Homo sapiens: one gene and its partner. The protein of the gene in region 1 interacts with the protein of each later gene in a pairwise test. Each region holds a gene or a part of one and is shown in the gene's direction. Other genes may lie near its edges. The genes, in order: DYNLT5 and MEOX2.

Region 1 (9,158 bases):
GGTTATGATGATGTCAGACAATGCTAAAGGCAGAGCAGCTCATTCATGGAAGAAAAGAGGGAGTATTTCTTCTCTAAGTAATCATGAATTTTGGCGAAAGGAAATTCATGGGCGCATCAAAGAGTGAGTAACTGTCTAAAATTGTAAATTCATTTATTGAATAAATAGGTTCGTAATGTTTATTAGGAGAAAAAAACACTTCCTCGGGGACATAAAAAGAGATAAAATGGGCAAGTACAAGGTGCAGGTCATCTTTAGGGGCCATATTTAAAAAGAAAGAGAAAGAGAGAAAGCTTAAGTGATAAGTTAATCCTAGCAGCATTTTTGCTATTTCAAAAATCATCCCAAAAAACCCTCTGCTCAAAAGAAACACCACATGCAATGTAAACCAGACACGCTTATATGTCTTTTGAGTTCTTCTCCTCAATATTTTATAACATAGGTTTTGCATTTTTGTAATCAATACATACATATACAATGTACTTAACATTATTGTATATAATTTTGTCATGTATTTTCATAGTTTTTTCCATATCCTCTTAAATGACTGCATAATATTTTGTCAATTTATGATTCTGGGTTCCTTAACCATTCTCTAATTATTGGACACTTTAAGTTTGTTTCCATTTTTTTTCTTTTTTACTATATGTCTGTGCTTGGTCATTTCCCAGAAGAATAATTAGTAGGTCAAAGGGCAATAAGTAGATTTTTTGGTTCTTGCTACATGTTGCATCTTCTCTCCTAAAGATATACATCAATTTTTAATATTTTCATGGCATTTCCTTTTGACTGCTGTTGGGAAGAAAACAAAACAAATTATCGACGTAGCAGTCAATTAATAATAGACTTTCGTTCTTAGTTTCTATAGCTTTGGAGGATGTTGTATATTGAGTATATATTGGGAAGCAGGAGCTAGGGTGTCCTGCAGAACAGAGAGTAGAAGAACTGGAATAATTAGAATTCTGAAACCAAAATCTTTCTATTCTCAGAGTGTATTAATGCCTACTTGCAACTCCACATTCCAGCCCTGGAAGTCTGTGGATTACACATACAATGCCTTTTACAGGTGGGAAACTGACTATAAAGGAGTAGCAATCCCAGCACATGTCAGAAGTAAAGGTGGGAGAATGATTAATCTTTGTAATTTTTGCTTCTAAACTTTTCTGGCTGCTATTTCCAATAGTTAAGTGCAAGGGTTATTTTTTAAATTATTTAAAACTGATTGTTGGCTTAAATTCAACTTACGTTTTCCAAGAAACTATTTAAGTAATAGTCTGACATAAATTACGTACCCATGATATTTTTTTAAATACTGTCTCCAAAGATTAAATTGTAATTCCTATTTGCATGACTTTTACTTATCTTTTCCCCTTCAAAACAAATTTGTCATATAGAATCAGAGTGTGGCTACATTTGAAGAATTAGAGATCACTCTTTTTAACCTATTATTGATGAATATAAATACATATTAAAAATAAGAATACAAAAATCATATTTATCAACACATTAGGATAGATTTTTCACTGACAACTACATTTAAATGATAACTATTTTGGTTTTGGACTCCCAAACAAAACATTTAGAATGGAACCTCTATTTGTACTTTTTTTCTTAAATAGCAAATGATCAGCTTCCAAGTCCCCTTGCAATGCAGACTATTTAGGAGGCTCCCCCACCCCATGCTAACTTGTATTAATACTTGCTTTCCATTGGCTTCCTCACTGTCTGGAATTAGACAGTACAAGTTATTCTCCTTCATGAATGAGGCTTCAACTAGTAGAAAAATTCTGAAAGCTTAGTGACTATCAAATACAGGCATTGTTTTGAAATTGCAGTGTTTTATGGAAAAACATATAACTTTCATTTGAAAATTACTTTAAAACAATTTTGAAAATATAAATTTCAATAATGTAAAACATTCTGAAGTTTATTAAGGACTGAATACATTATCTCACTGAATCTCCCCCGCATTAATCCTACTAGGTAGGCATCATTTCTACCACTTTACTATGAAATAACTAAAGTTTACAGGTCAAGTAATTTGACTTAATGATTAGGATACAGTCCCAAATCCTGACTATGAGATACAAAGTCCACAGACCCCTATCTACTTCCATAGCACCATCTTCCCCACCATCTTGCGGGCATCATCCCCTCCAGCTATACTCAGTTATTCCTCAGTGCTCTATCTGGCCCCCAGCCATTGCCCCATGTTGCTTCCCCATGGGGTACCCCGACTCCTTGCCTGCAATGCTCTTCTTACACTATTCCCCTGGCTTTCTTCACTTCTTCCATCAGAATTTCGCTCCATCTCCACCTTTTTGGGAAGTGCTCTCTAATTACTCATCTATGACCACCTTTACCTCCAGACTGCATTGGATGATCTGCCTTTCTTCTCCTACTGCTTTTGCCTTCGATATGCACTATATTTGGTGATTTGCTTGTCTATCTCTTTCAACAGACTATGGACTTATTTGTCTTTTTAGCGGTAACCACACTTATAAGGAGGACATGAAGAGTAAAGGTAGACCTCCTTGAAAAGCTGCTTCTTATATGTGGTATAAGATCAGCACAGATTTAGCCCTACAGTCTTGGTTTCCATGTCTACAGTCTTCCACAGTTGTAACTAATGCTTAACAATGATCCCCAGACAGAATAAATATCTGAAATGCCTTCTGAATTACAAAAAGAAGATTAAATTTATATTAAATATTATTGTGAACTGTTTTCAAGATTGGGTCTGTTTTTAAGTTATCTTTTCAATTTAATGTAATTTTTATGTTTTATTAAAGAAAAAACAGAAACATCTTAAGCTGGATCTTATTATCCTAACTGTTAGTGTGTTGGCATATTTCTGTTAGACCTGGACATACATATATCAGACCCATGCTGTCTGAGTCCAGACAGTACACTACACAGTGGTCATCATACTCCATCTGTAATTTCAAATTATTTTTTACCTGAACAATTTATAATAATAAGGATGATAATAGCTAACATTTATAGGGCCCTTGCGATGAACCTTATTTATGTATCATAGAAGCTCCATAATAGGAGTTGGCAAACTATGACCCAAGGGCCTATTCCAATCTGCATCTGTTTTGCTAAATACGATTTTTACATAGGTGAAAAAAATCAAAAGGGGAACAGTTTTTTTTGCAGCATGTAAAAATAACAAGAAATTCAAATCTCTATATGCATAAAGTTTATTAGGACACAGCCATTCCTATTCACTTGTGCGTTGTCTCTGGCCACTTTCGCACTGTAACAGCAGAGTTGAGTAGTTACAATAGAAACCGTAGGGCCTGCAAATCCAAAAATATCTGCTATTTGGCCTTTTACAGAAATGTTTGCCAACTCCTGCTCTATAAAGATAGATGTTATTATCTCCCCCATTCGACAAATGAAGAAGCAGAAGCTTAGAGAGATTGAGGCTCCAAAGCTACAGAATTAACAAGCAGCAAAAATGGGCTTTTGTTTATTAGTTGAGTATTTTCATTTCCTGAAAATTGGCAATCCATGTGTGATTTGCATTAATAAAACTATTCTGTTCATTCACCAGAACCTTCTGTTTCCCGTCCACAGTAAGAGCAGGTCTTTACAATTACATCTTTCTTATTGGAAGCTCAGACTTTGGCAGACACTGAACAGTGTTTGAACAGATGTGCTTCTCTCATTTCCTTAAAATGGAAACAGAAGCTATGAGGTCAAGTTACTTTCACAGGATCATGTGACATGATGTCTAGGCTTGTTATCTGTGAGGCCAGGAGTTCCACTAGTAGATTAGGGACAAGGTTGGGGGCTGAACATTCTCTCCTTTGCCTCAAACCAAAATTACAGTGATGTCATGTTACCAGAACTTTCTGTATGGATCCCACAGCTCCCCGTGTGAACCCACTGATGGCATCTAACATACCAGTTAGGCCACACTATATGTATTTCTTCATTTATTCAGGATTTATTAGCTTCTATGTGCCAATTACTGTGCCACATATTAGGCATATAAAGGTGAATAACTACAGGTTTCTAATTTAGATAAGTTCATTTTTCAGGGAAACTGAGAGCTGCCTGGTAACTTTTTTCACATTGTCTAGGTCTTGCCAGTAAAAGTGACCAAAATGGAAATGATTGCATTCATTACTTCATTTCAACAGTAATGAATTTATTCTATCATTCAATCTATACTACTGTGAGCTGTTTACGGGCAATTGAAAATGGTGCTGCCAGAACAATTTCTTCATTTTGATACCTGAAGGAGAAGGCTAGAGATTAGAAGATCAGAGTTAGGAGATAAGTTGTATCACCATGTATGTTAAACTAAAGCCCCCAACAAGACCTACCTGAGATATAGCCTCCCCCAAAAAGAGAAAATAGTTTGGGAAAACTGAAATGGCCATGTTTCCAAATGAAACCACAATAACAACTAATATTGTATTGTCATTTTAGGTTATTAAGCCATTTCACATACAATATCTGTGTAAGTTAAACAGACAAGATATTTTTATCCCCATTTATGTTTGTAAATGGGGAAATGATAGATTGTGTTGGCAGAAAACTGGCTCATTATAGGGAGGAAAATGAAGCTGGCCTCCTACCTTATATGCTTTGCATAGGTAAACTCCAGATGGAAGACCAAAATGTGGGAATCTATTAACAAAGCTAAGAGAAGAAAGCACAGGCCCATATCTTTATGTTCTAGGAGTAAGGAAAGATTTCTGAAAGAAGATCCCAAAATGAAAACTCACACCATAGAGCAAAATAATTTTTGGATAAATATAACCACAATAAAATCTAGGGCTTCTGCTCAACAAAGGATACAATAGACATAATTAATAGGCTGGCTGAAGATACATACACGTTTTTTTAAACCCTGTACATTAACAACTTATGCTAGGAAAACAATTTTTAAAATAGTCAAAGAAGACAGCAATTTTCAGAAACAAAGCCCAAATAGCTAAGCAGAATATGAAGAGGTGCTAAAACTCACTTTCAAGCAGAAAAAATATAAATTAAAACAAAATACCATTTTGCACCCATCCAAATGGCAAAACAGAAGAAAAGAGAATAATACCAAATGTTGGCAAGGCATGTGAGAGTAAAACCTGATATCGCCATTTGGCAAAGAAAGTTAATGGTTTTTAGAAAATACAGGGGTGTGTCTGCTTTATCAGAGTAAGAGCTTACAGAATAATGGCTCACAAAGCCCTACATGATCTAGCTACCTGATACCTTTGCAACTTTATCTTCTTTCACTCCTTTTCTTCTTCCTCCCTCTGCTACTTGTCTCTATGCATTTTCTCAAACACACTAGCAGCCTCCTGTCTCAAAGCATTTGCATGTGCTGTTCTCTCTTCCTAGTATACCTTTCCCTCAGCCATCCATGTGGTTCATTTCCTCACCTCCTTTCTTTGTTCATGAAGGCCTACCTTGACCACTTCATTTGAAATTGCACATCACATCTTCTCCTCCACCCACTTCCAAACTCCCTTAACCTGCTCTATTTTTTCTCTTCCCTGAGGCATGTATCACCTTTTATCATAATATATAATTTGCTTGTTTAGTATTTTATTGTCTATTCTCTGTCTTGCCTTACTAAAGTAACAGTTCCATGAGAGCAGAGACCATAGTTTGTTTTTGTTTTTGTTTTTTTTCCAGTATTGCATCCCAAAGACCTAAAATAGTGCCTGGCATATAATAGTCACTCAGTACATATTTTGTGATCATCGAATGAATAATTGTTGCATTTTATCAATTCCTGAGCAAGCAAGTTTCTTTTGCTCACGAACAAGTTAGGTTCACAGGTCCATGCATGTGTTAAGTCCAGGTTGACTAGGGGCTTTCCTCTTATAGACATAAGATGCATTTACAGCAAATAGAAAAATGCTTGTTCAGATTTTCTTAATGTATACCTTTACCTCCATGCTGACACATTCCATTGTGCATCTATTTTTAAAAAACCCAAAAGAACAGTTTCATTTGTGTTGGAAATCTGTTGTAATAGGCCACACTCCTCCTTGATGATCTCCACAGCTTTGTAGAGGTATTCATGGCACCTGCACTACCAGCATCACCTCTGATGATTGCCCAGCGTGACACAGCTTTGAACCAATGCATTTCATCCAAGAGCTGCAACAAAAGTTCATCAGCTGTGCTTAACTATCACCTCCCTTGCTCTTGGATGAGCATTAGCTCAACAGGCTTCAGACACTAACTCTGATCTTCTATCCACATACTTAAAATTGTTGTACTTTGTCAATCACCATTTCTGGATTACCTTCAATTACTCCAGAGCTGCGCTTTTCACAGGTTGCATGGTTCATTCTTTATCCTTCAGCATCACTTCTACTCGAAAAAAATATGTTCCACAAGACAGTGTCATTTGTCATGTTCCTGCCTCTTTCATTTTTGAAAATTATCTTTTCTTTCCATTATAGCCTTTCTCTTACTAGTAAAATGGAGCAAATAATGTGAGTAAAATACCTAAAAACTACAGGCATACTTTGGCAATATTGCAGGTTTATTTCCAGACCATTGCAATAAAGTGTATTTTGCAATAAAGGAAGTCACATGAATGTTTTAGTTTTCCAGTGCACATAAAAATTGTTTACACTGTTCTGTATGTAGTCTATTAAGTATTCAATAGCATTTTATCTAAAGAAAAAATGTACATACCTTAGTATAAAAATCCTTTATTGCTAAAAATGCTAATGATCATCTGAACCTTCAGCAAGTTGTCATCTTTTTGCTAGTGGAGGGCCTTGCCTCAGTGTTGACATCTGCTGACTAATCAGGGATATGGTTGCTGAAGGTTGGGATAGCTGTGGCAATATCATAAAATAAGACAACAGGCTGGGCAAAGTGACTCACGCCTATAATTCCAACACTTTGGGGAGCCAAGGCAAGAGGATCACGGCAGCCAGGGGTTCAAGACCAGCCTGGACAACATAGTGAGACACCCCCTTCCCTACAAACAAATCAGCCAGGCATAGTAGTACCTGCCTGTAGTCCTAGGTACTTGGGAGACTGAGGCAGGAGGATCCCTAAGCCTGGGAGGCTGAGGTTGCAGTGAGCTTTGATCATACCACTATACTCCAGCCTGGGCAACAGAGAGAGACACTATCTCAAATAAAATAAAAATAAAATGAAATGAAATAATAAAATAAATTTTAAAGCTTGCCACATCAATGGACTCTTCCTTTCATGAAAGATTTCCCTGTAGCATGTGATACTGTTTGATAGCATTTTACCATGGTAGAACTTCTTTCAAAATTAGTCCATTCATCTCAAACCGTGCCACTCCTTTATCAACTAAGTGTATGTAATATTCTAAATTATTTGTTGTCATTTCAACAGTGTTCACAGCATCTTCACCAGAAGTAGATTCCATCTCAAGAAACCACTTTCTTTGCTCATTTGTAAGAAGCAACTCCTCATCTGTTTAAGTTTACCATGAGATTGCAGCAATTCAGCCACATATTCAAGTTCCATTTCTTTTTTAACCATTTTAAATTTTATGTTTTTTATTGAAAATTTCAATTATGCATATTCATGGGGTACATAGTGATTTTTCCATAAATATAATGTATAGTAATCAGATCACGGTGATTAGCATATCCATTATCTCAAACATTTAGTATTTCTTCCTGTTGGGAACATTCAATGTCCTCTTTCTAGCTCTTTGAATCTATGTATTATTTTCATCTATGGTCACCCTACAGTGGTAAAAACACTAGAACTTATTTCTCCTATCTAGCTATAATTTTGTATCCTTTAACAGTAAATCAAGTTCTCTTTCTATTTCCACTGCATCTGCAGTTACTTCCTCCACTGAAGACTTGAACCCGTCAAAGTCATCCCTGAGGGCTAGAATCAACTTCTTCAAAACTCCTGTTAATGTTGACACTTTGACCTCCTCCCATGAATCATAAATGTTCTCAATGGCTTCTAGAATGGTGAATCCTTTTCAACTTACTTTGCCCAGATCCATCAGAGGAATCCACATCTATGACAGCAATAGCCTTACAAAATGAATTTCTTAAATCGTAAGATTTATGGGGTGAAAAGAAGTTGGTGAATACATACAAAAATACAATTAGATAAAATAAGTTCTAGTATTCAATAATACAGTAGGGAAATTATAGTTAGCAATAATTTATTATATATTTCGAAATAGCTAGTGGGGGTTAGGGGAAAAAAATAGCTAGAGGAATTTTAATGTCCCCAACACAAAGAAAAGATAAATGTTTGAGGCAATGGATATCCCAGTTGTCCTGATTTGATCATTACACATTTTGTATGCATGTATCAAAATATCACATGTTCCCCATAAAAATGTATCACTATGATACATCAATTAAAAATACAAAAATAAGTAAATAAATGAGATGAAGGTCGAAATTACTCCTTGATCCATGGGCTGCAGAATGAATGTTGTGTTAGCAGGCATGAAAGCAACATTAATCTTCTTGTACATCTCCATCAGAGCTCTTGGGTGACCAGGTGCATTGTCAATGAGCAGTAATATTTTAAAAGGAATCTCTTTTTCAGAGCAGTAGGTCTCAACAGTGGGCTTAAAATATTCAAGAAACTATGCCGTAAAACAGATGTGCTGTCATCTAGTCTTTTTTGTTTCACTTATAGAACACAGTAGATTTAGCATAATTCTCAAGGGCCCTGGGATTTTCAGGATGGTAAATGAGTATTGGCTTGAACTTAAAGGCACAAGCTGCATTAGCTGCTACCAAGAAAGTCAGTCTGTCCTTTGAAGCTTTGAAGCCAGGCATTGACCTCTCTCTAGCTATAAAAGCCCTAGGTGGCATCTTCTGAAATAAGACTGTTTCATCTACATGGAAAATCTGTTGCTTATTGTAGCCCCTTCATCAATGATCTTAGCTTATCCGATGATCTTAGATCTTCTGGGTAACTTGCTGCAGCTTCTACATCAGCACTTGCTGCTTCACCTTGCACTTTTATGTTACAGAGATGGCTTCTTTCCTCAAGCCTCATGAACAAACCTCTGCTAGTTTCAAACTTCTTCCATAGCTTCCTCACTTTTCTTAGCCTTCATGGAAGTGAAGGGAGTTAGGGCCTTGCTCTGGATTGGGCTTTGGCTTAAGAGAATTTGTGACTGGTCTGATCTTCTATCCAGACCACTAAAA
Region 2 (9,158 bases), on another chromosome or scaffold:
AGTTGAAAGGTTAATCATAGCAAAAAGGTTTCAATTTTTATTAGAAAAACAGTCGATTTTAGAATGCAGTGACAATTTCATAAACTGAACATTTGATATCAGTGTAACTTTGGAAGCAGATCCCAGTTCGGGTTGATGAGCGTACTCTTGCAATTCCCATAAGCTCTTACGGTTCATTTTATTTCTTGCAATGAGAAACCTACATGATAGATTGTTCTTCATGCTTCCTGAACTGAGCCATTGCCCTTAAGTTTCTCAGGGCAAACAATTTTCATACAAGCACATGTTATTTTGTTTGGGGAAAACTGAGAAAACGGAATTCAATAACTGATTCCCTTAATTTATTTTAATAATTTTTTTAAAAAATGGAATAATTTAACAAAACTAATTTATCTCTCCCCCCCAACTTAGTGGGAAATAACCATTTAACAAAATTAAATTCATTTCTACATTTTGAAGCTGATAATGAGGGTACTGGAAAAACAAGCAAATATAAGTGTTTGTGTCAGCTACATAAATTATTAACAGATTAAAACTTCAGTGGAAAGTACAATTAGTCATCACCAAGGATAAAAATACTGGGGATTTAGAATGAGCTTTTCTTTCCTTTGATATGTTGAAGAAATATTGACTAAAAGGAAAATCACAATAGTTTCTGTTTAAATCTATGTACACTTATTGAAAATAAAATTTTATTTGCCAATTTCAGCTGAAGGTATATTTGTCAGATATTGAGATAGATTTAAATTAAAGATATCTTTCTCGTGTAACAATTGCATTAGGTGTTCCATAAATTATCTTCAAAGATATTTTATTTCATAGACATCTTGATCTAGCACAAACTAAAACAATATTGAAAATGATTATGATCCTGGTATGCTATTAATACGTATATCTCTCATTGCTTATAGCACATTTTAGTATTTCAATATTTCTAAAATATAAAATTGAAGTGATTTCGGAACTCCTGAAATTTAAAATTGTATTAGATAAAAATGTCATCCTATATAGTGAGATCATTTGTATTTTGTTAGGTAGTTTATAATTACTTTGCATTTATGGTTGAGAGAAAATTCAGTACATAAATCCAGGGTAAAGTCAGGACCAAAATTCTGTATCCCTGCATCTAATACTTAGACTGTATGTGTATGTGCTAATTCTAATTACCGTGTTAAATTCTAATAGAATTTTAAGCACCAGAAAGTATTGAAAAACAGCTTAAATATTTATAAACCTTACAATTTTATTCATAGTAACGATTTAAAACTATAATACGTAAGCTTCTCTAGCATATATTTTATGCACTTTCCCTCCACAAATGCACATGGACACACACATATGCAAACTCTAGCAGCTTCATGTTTTGGAAGCAAATATTTATGGACTTTAGGCTTCCTTTATGTAAGTTTATTGACAATTGAAAATAACCAAATTTAATAGAAAAACACACCATTATATTTTATATGTGTTAAACATTTTTGTAACTTTGAACCTGCTACGCTTTCCAGCATTATTAGCAAAGCCAACATCTGCCACGTCTTCAAAGGGACTCTTAAAAATCAAAACTTTACAACTGCTGAAAAAAATCACTACAAAGCAGGTGATTCTGAAAAATGTCTATAAATAGTGTGAATTGCTTGGCTTCAATTACATTTGGTTGCTCTTTGAGCAATCTAGTAGTAGGAATAAACTGCCCAGTTTTAGTTAAAATAACTAAAATTAATTCATTGATCGAACTTTAGCTTTTGTGCATGGTTATACAGTGTACATATCTAGATATTTTCTATTCAAATTTATGATACATATTTTATAAAAAATAGAAATTACATCAAAAAAGAAAAGAGCGATTTGGGGAGGTAGACTTTACTAGGTTTTGAATCATATTAGATTCTTGTAAAATTACAAATATTTTATTTATAGCTACTATGTCATAAAACCTTTGCTGTCAAATTATGTCTGTCTATATGCTTGACTATGCAGAATGACTAGCAAATATTACATTTAATAAGTTGGAACTTAAACTCAGAGTAATACCTTATCAACCTCATTCAGTATGATATTGTAATATTTCCAAGATATTTCAATCATTGTGTTTTCTGAAAGGAATAAATTAGTGTTATTATTCATTTCTGTGTTACTGGATTGTGGCTTTTCAGCATTTGCTTTAGAATTTAAAAAATAATATACTGGATCTTGAAGATTAAAGTGAAGTATTGAACAAATCAAATGGAGTACAAAAAAAAACTTCCATTCTTTATCTTGGACTGGTAGACTAATTTTAGGTGTGAACATTTAAAAATGGTAATCTGACATAAAAAATTCTAAGTATCATTGACCTACATGAGGGCTCTAAAATGTGATCTAAAATAATCACACTCAAGTTAAAAGCAACAATTCCTTTAGAATTAAAATGCTTTATTGTTGAACATTAGCAATGAATGGAAGGAAGAATGCAAATAAAAGTAGGAATAGTTTCCAATTCTGTGTAAATTTCTTCATTTATAGTTCATTTTAAAAGAAAAATCATAAATGCAAGGCATGGTATTGCACAAACTTTCACCGGGCTTAGAAATCCAGAACTTAGTATTTAAAGTTTTAATCTTTGTTTATGGTAATTATCAATAGAAACCTTTACAATGACATCTTATAAGCTGATCTTTACTAATAAACTGAAAAAACAGTACTTCAGTCATTACCCCATTCTCCCTCTGTGTTTCAAAACATAGACCGTTCATTATAACTCTGGAATTTAAGTTGTAATATTTATAATAAAATCTAAACATCCTAAGAACTTAATTTTAAGCAAAAATGAAATATCAGAAAATGTCAATCCTTTCTCTTAGATTCTGAGAAATTTGGGAGGTGAATTCCATATGTAATGAAATAATTACATTTTTTTTTGCACTTAAGAAATGTAAATCTATAGATGAATTAATAGCTGAATTATGTAAAACATCACCATATATAAGCCCACTACATGTACTTAGCCTGATAATGCTGCCTTGCTTGCGAAATTTTATTCATTTAGTGTTTTTATAATGGCAGCTTGACACACACAACCTAATATGAAGGTTTTTTAGATTTTAATTTCAAATGAGAAAAACCAATATAATACAGCAATATATTTTAGTTTTGAACTGTATTCACCTCAGGAATTTATTTCTAAATTTTCAGAGCAAATCTCTTTTCCAAGCACTGCTATGAGGGCTGCAAATATCTTTGAGCGATAAATACTAAGGATGCAGAAATATTAGAAAATAAATTACAGGTAGGAATTTCTTAAATAATATCTGTTGAATTAATAGTTGTGGATTATTTATCTCACCCAAATTTTCTTTATTTTTCTCACTTTTTTTTTTGATAAATGAAACATTTTGTGCAGGAAGATATATAAGCATTTCCCCCCTTGATTGTAATAATAAAAAGAGAAGGCTTAATTCTCAACTGGCCAGTTACATTGTATTTCCTGGCTTATAGTATTGGTAAATGATTTCAGTGGTTAAAATCAAAAGCAAAAAAATAAAATAAAACACAAACTAAGGCCAAAGTCCACAGATTAAAAATTGAAGTAGATGTGATTTATTTCCTATTTAGCATATTTAAGAAACAAGACACATTTTGTAGTCACAATTTGTTTCTACATATCATGTGCTTTAGATGTTAATATGGTTTACTGACATACATGTTTTGTAAAGATTGTAAATATAATGAGGCACTAACATTTTGCCTACTTTCCTTAGGATGCTCTCATGACTATTTCTTTTACTAGCGTGTTGAACTGAACCCCCAAGTAGAAAAGGAGTAACGGTGTAAAGTAAAGTTAGTTGCAAAACTCTCTACATTACTCCTAAATCACAGTCATCAGTGAGATTCAAAATCCCATTGGAGAAAACCTCGCAGAATATTTTATGTGTTTTAATGTAGTAAAACTTAGAATGGTCAAGAACATATAGGGCTCAGCCTACAATTTGCGTTAGAGGCAGAATTAATCTAAATCTGATGCCCATTTCTCTAACAGTTCTTCCCGTTTTACTTACATTATAAAAATATTGAATTTTTTAAAGAATGTTGTACTAGATAGTATTTTATGATACAAAATAATCAATAATGTATCTATTGATCCATTTGTGCTCATCTCAGATGTTGTTTTTATGTTTCAGAATAAGTATTTTCATTTAAAATCTCTTGACATTATTTATTACCAAATTAACAGAAAGTTACATGGTAAGTGTATGATCGAATGGGTTATTAATTTTCATGGGTCATGAGTGGGTTTTTAATTTTCCTCTATATTTGAAATTTTTGATATATAATTTCCGGAATAATAAGTAGCTCATTATTCCTGAAGCTTTCATTTATAATGTTACTTTGTGTACAGAAATATAATATTTCTAAATTTATATATGTTACTCACTACTAATTGTGCACTGTATTTTTAAATATTGGTTTTCACAGTGTTATGAAAATAATTTACATTTTTTTGGTTTCTTACATCACCATATGCACAAGAATGATCAGGTAGAATCCGTACTGTATCTATACATTTTTGGAAAGGGTTTGTATGAAAGATAGAAAAACCCTTTCAAAAATAATCCCTTGTTTTATCAATAGAATTAGAAATTAATAAACTGGATCATTAACTTGTATGATAATATTGTTATTTTATTTTTAAAATTTCCATTTATTTAAATGTTTAATAATTCTAAAATGTTTGTGTACCTTGATGACAATTCTTATGTCCTTACAATGTGTACTTTTATTGCAAATATAACATATTTTTACTAGGTAGTAACTCAGTGGTAAAAACTTTAGGGTACTGATTATAGCTCTAAATTCAAAAGCTGTTGCTCTTCAAAATTTTGTAGAATCAATTCAATGTGAATGTTTCAAATGTATTTAAGTATTCTGCTGTTTGTGTTCATAAGCTTTCTTTCTAAGATGTTAGACGTATGTTTCTTAAAGCTTGCATAGGCTACATTGATTAAAATTATGATTATAAGCTGCTTACTTTCATAGTTTTTTGTTTTTATTGTAGTCTAGTAGAGAGGACAATGGCAAGGAAAGGATAAAAGGGAGGGTGCTGAATTAACTAGGACATGGAAGCTATACTTAAAACACACGTTAAAAGAAGGCGTTTACTTTATATATGTATATACATATATAGGTATATGCACACTCACACCCACACATATATATGCATGCATTACTGTAACTCCAAATTTAATTTCCTGATAATAGTAAATCTGAATTAGAGCATCCTTATTAAATGCATAATATGATTATAAATGTTCCAATTACAAAATTAAATATTAAGCTTGAAGCATATATAGTTTTGTGAAGAGTCCAGCAGGCTTAAGCTGGCAATCAATGATAGTTATAAAAGTCCCTGCAGTTTTTGTTTTCTTTTGTTTTTCCTCTTTATTTAGCTCATTATTCTTCACACACTTCAAGAGAATCCCATAATGCTACAAGGAAAAAACAAATTCGCAGTTATCTTACGTGACTGTGGGCAAGAAAATGACTAAGGTGAAATCATCTGTCAGGCTCCGCAAAACCTAGAGGAGGGTCCAGCTTAGGTTGGCAGATGCCAGTAGAATTTTAAAGGCCTAGAATTTTACTCTTTGAAAATATAGCCTTAAATTTTTGCCAGAAATGACACCCAAATGAAAACTTATTTTTGCAAAGTGATAGTTATTTGCAAATGCAGTAGTGAAATATATTCAGAGTCTGTTGAGGTAGCTTGTCCACTGTCTGGACTGCACAGTAAACATTTGGATGGTTATTCTTAGCCACCCAAAAAACTAGCAAACTAAACTGAGGTGTATTCTTATTAGTTGAAAAGATTAAATGGGCATGCCTCTTATCAAATTAACAATGAATGCAAAGCAAATTTTGCAAATCATTGATTTATGTTGGTAGGTAACACAAACAGGAAACTATTCAGAAAAATAAATATGTGTTATCCGAAACGTAATGGGGACTAGCTTGGTTTTGTAGAACAACAGCAATTTAGCAAATAACTTTCACATTTAAAGAACCATATAAATAATGCTTTAGCACTCACTGCATAGGTTGGAATCAAGTGATGTCTTATTTAATATTATTCAAAGATAAAATGAGGTCTTAGTATGTGTAGTGCCTTTAACAATTAAAATTTTCTCACCTATAGGCTATGCTTACGTGGGAATTTCTTTTTCTTATTTGAAGTATAAACAGATCTGGATGCATTAAACTAGACAGAATGTAGATGTAAAAATGATTGAGACATATTAAAATGACAGGAAAGTCAGAGTTTAGGCATCCCTATTTGGAGGCTTGCTGCCACCCATGTTTCTAAGATTACAGTCTTGTGAATGTCCACACTCAAAATTCAGGGAATTATAAATAATTTTTCCTCCAGAACTATTCTTTGCTCCTGGAAGTAGAGCTGTATAATTTATTTTCTAGAATACCCAGATGTTTAGGAAAGTATAAGTAAGTGGCAACACTTTTGCATATTTAGCCATTAGTTGATAAATCATAAAAGATTTATCCTATTTCTTAATTATCATATTAGACAAGGAAATAGATGTCACACTCAAAGGGATAATTGAAGAGAGTTTGATGATGGCAATTTGATGGTGAGTAGAATGTAGGGAAACCACAGGAAATGATGAATCCCCCAGGGTCTGTCCACAGTTGGAATATATTAGCACCCCTAACCTGAGAGGGTAAATGCAGGGACCTCTTACCAGAATCCAATGAGCGCAACAGGACAGAAGCCTTCTGGAAAAGTTGGGACCTCAGATGGAGGATTGCAGCTCATGTCGAATATCATCCAGTAACCTGTCTTCATGTCCTCCAATCTTCTTTTGTTGCTTCCATTGATCAAACACTATCCGAAGCCAGAACCCCGGAGGGTTAGGTGGATGCAACCCTAAGAGTCAACCGAAGAAGAAATGAGGCAAGCATATCTGGGAGAACACAATAGTTAGGGCTAAACCCCCGCTGTGTCTCTTACTATTGTCACCTCTTGGCCACAAATTTAACTTTTCTCTACCATCGTTTCTGAAAAGGAAATTGAGTTAATATACACAAAGCAATTAGAACAATGTCTGGCTTAGTAAAGTGTCAGTTATTATTTTTATCATCTATCAATGAATGTACAATTATGTAATGCATATGCACCATCTGAAAATAATCTATTTTATGCTACCTGTTTGCATTTTATTACAAATACTGCTATAGGAAATGTAACTTGCCTAAGTAATTACTAAAGATTTAAAATAATCATTGTCCTTAGAATTGTAAACGGCATGAAATTTCCCTGAAATGTAAGGTGAATTCTAGCCAAGTTATGTAAGAGGCTCAAGTTGCCTTTCCCACCCTTAAGATTTCCATTCCACAGCCTCTTTTACTTGGACCTCTCCTAACTTCCTCTTCTCTTGGGTCTCCTGCTACTTCTCCATTGAAAAGCTGTTTTCAGGAAGAGTGCATATTGAGCAAAATAAAGAATAAAATGAGGACTCTTTTTTTTTTTTTGAGACCGAGTTTTGTTCTGTTGCCCAGGCTGGAGTGCAGTGGCGCAATCTTGACTCACTGCAACCTCTGCTGTCCGGGTTCAAGTGATTCTCCTGCCTCAGCCTCCTGAGTAGCTGGGACTACAGGCGCCCGCTAATTTTTATATTTTTAGTAGAGACGCGGTTTCACCATGTTGGCCAGGCTGGTCTCGAACTACCTACCTCAAGTGATCTGCCCACCTCGGCCTCTCAAAGTGCTGGGATTACAGGTGTGAGCCACCGCGCCCGGCCAGAACTTAACTTTTTAAAAGGAGTGTACAGAGGGGCAGGGCATTTAGTCAAGAGGAAACAGAATTTAAATAAAAGGAATTCAAATATGACAATGAAATTTTGGGTCTCTGTTTTAGCTGTTAACTAGGAGGGTGGGAATGACATTTTCCTGCTATGTTAGAAACTTTATTGCAGAGAGAATTTTCTTATTGTTGCTCTGTTATTTTTAGCAGTTCCAGTTGCAGACCCTTAGGAATGGCAAATGTGCAAATATTACTAAAAGCTGAAAACATGTATGTCCCACACAAAATGCATGAACAGAATTTTATTTTGGTGATATAATTTCTTTTTACAAAGAACATATTTTAATTATTTGTTTGTTCACATTTGCATATTTAATACGTTATTGAGAAATATCACTTAGATAGAGATAAAAGAGAACAACAAACCCCTGGAATTGCAAGTCCTGGGTGGTTGACTGCGTTGACTCAGTTTAGTCACCTCTCCCACATCCATAAGGCAGTGTGCAGAATTCAGACATGACTTCAGCGAAATTTTAAATGATCATATATGCGAGACTTCTACAGTGCCTTTTGAATAAATAATAGAATCAAGCATTATATTAAAATCACAAATGCAGAGTTAACTTTTTAAGCATTTTCAGATCCATAGCAATTTGATCCCTAAAACAAGAGAAGTTTAAAGGAACAGAGAGTGTTTCTCTGTTAGATAATAGAAGAACTGGGAGGATGTAGGTAGAAGAGTACAGGAAGAAGAGCAAAATATTAAATGTCCGATAATACACAGCAGGGACAAGAAGGGTCCAACGGCATCAACCAGTGCGTTGACTCTTTGATTTTAGAGGAGGCTTGATTTGTCAAAGTTTTCTTAATGAATTGTAACCTGTAATATTTAAACAGATGATTAGAATCAAAATAATCAAGACACTAGAAGAGCCTCAAGGCACTACCCAGTTCAATGAATGTATTTCCTAGATGAGGGAATGTGCCCAGAGAAGTTAAGTAATGTCTGTCCATTCAGCCAAGTAGTGGCAGCTGAGCTTCCATATCCTGACTTCAGCCTAGTGCCCTTAAAAGGAAAATCTCGTAAAATATTTTGAAGCCTTAAGTTTTTAGTCTTCCCAATAAAAATAAATTTCAGCATCACTTAAAATGTTGACTACTGCTTTTAAGTGAACAAAATGGAATTTGACAAAGTGCTTTGCTTGAGTGTAAATTACCTCTCCCAGAATCTGATTTCATGATTACCTCAGACATTTTTCAGCTTTGTTTTATGAATGTAAACAGTGATCAACTTTCTTAGCTTCAATTTTTAATTTTTTTAATGATGTAGCTCTTGTGGTCAATTACCAAAGTACCTGAATATATT

What was found.
Region 2: the proteins of DYNLT5 (region 1) and MEOX2 interact in binary tests that used the Homo sapiens proteins (3 or more experiments, as listed by UniProt).

Annotation. Positions count from the first base shown.
Region 1 is NC_000001.11:66,754,655-66,763,812, forward strand, and holds part of DYNLT5 (dynein light chain Tctex-type 5), read left to right. Parts: intron 1-1; 5' UTR 2-4; coding exon 5-123; intron 124-989; exon of another isoform or gene 990-998; coding exon of another isoform or gene 999-1,066; intron 1,067-9,158.
Region 2 is NC_000007.14:15,675,221-15,684,378, reverse strand, and holds part of MEOX2 (homeobox protein MOX-2), read left to right. Parts: intron 1-2,398; exon of another isoform or gene 2,399-5,465; intron 5,466-6,731; exon of another isoform or gene 6,732-6,916; intron 6,917-8,218; exon of another isoform or gene 8,219-8,359; intron 8,360-9,158. UniProt on the Homo sapiens protein: Mesodermal transcription factor that plays a key role in somitogenesis and somitogenesis and limb muscle differentiation. Required during limb development for normal appendicular muscle formation and for the normal regulation of myogenic genes.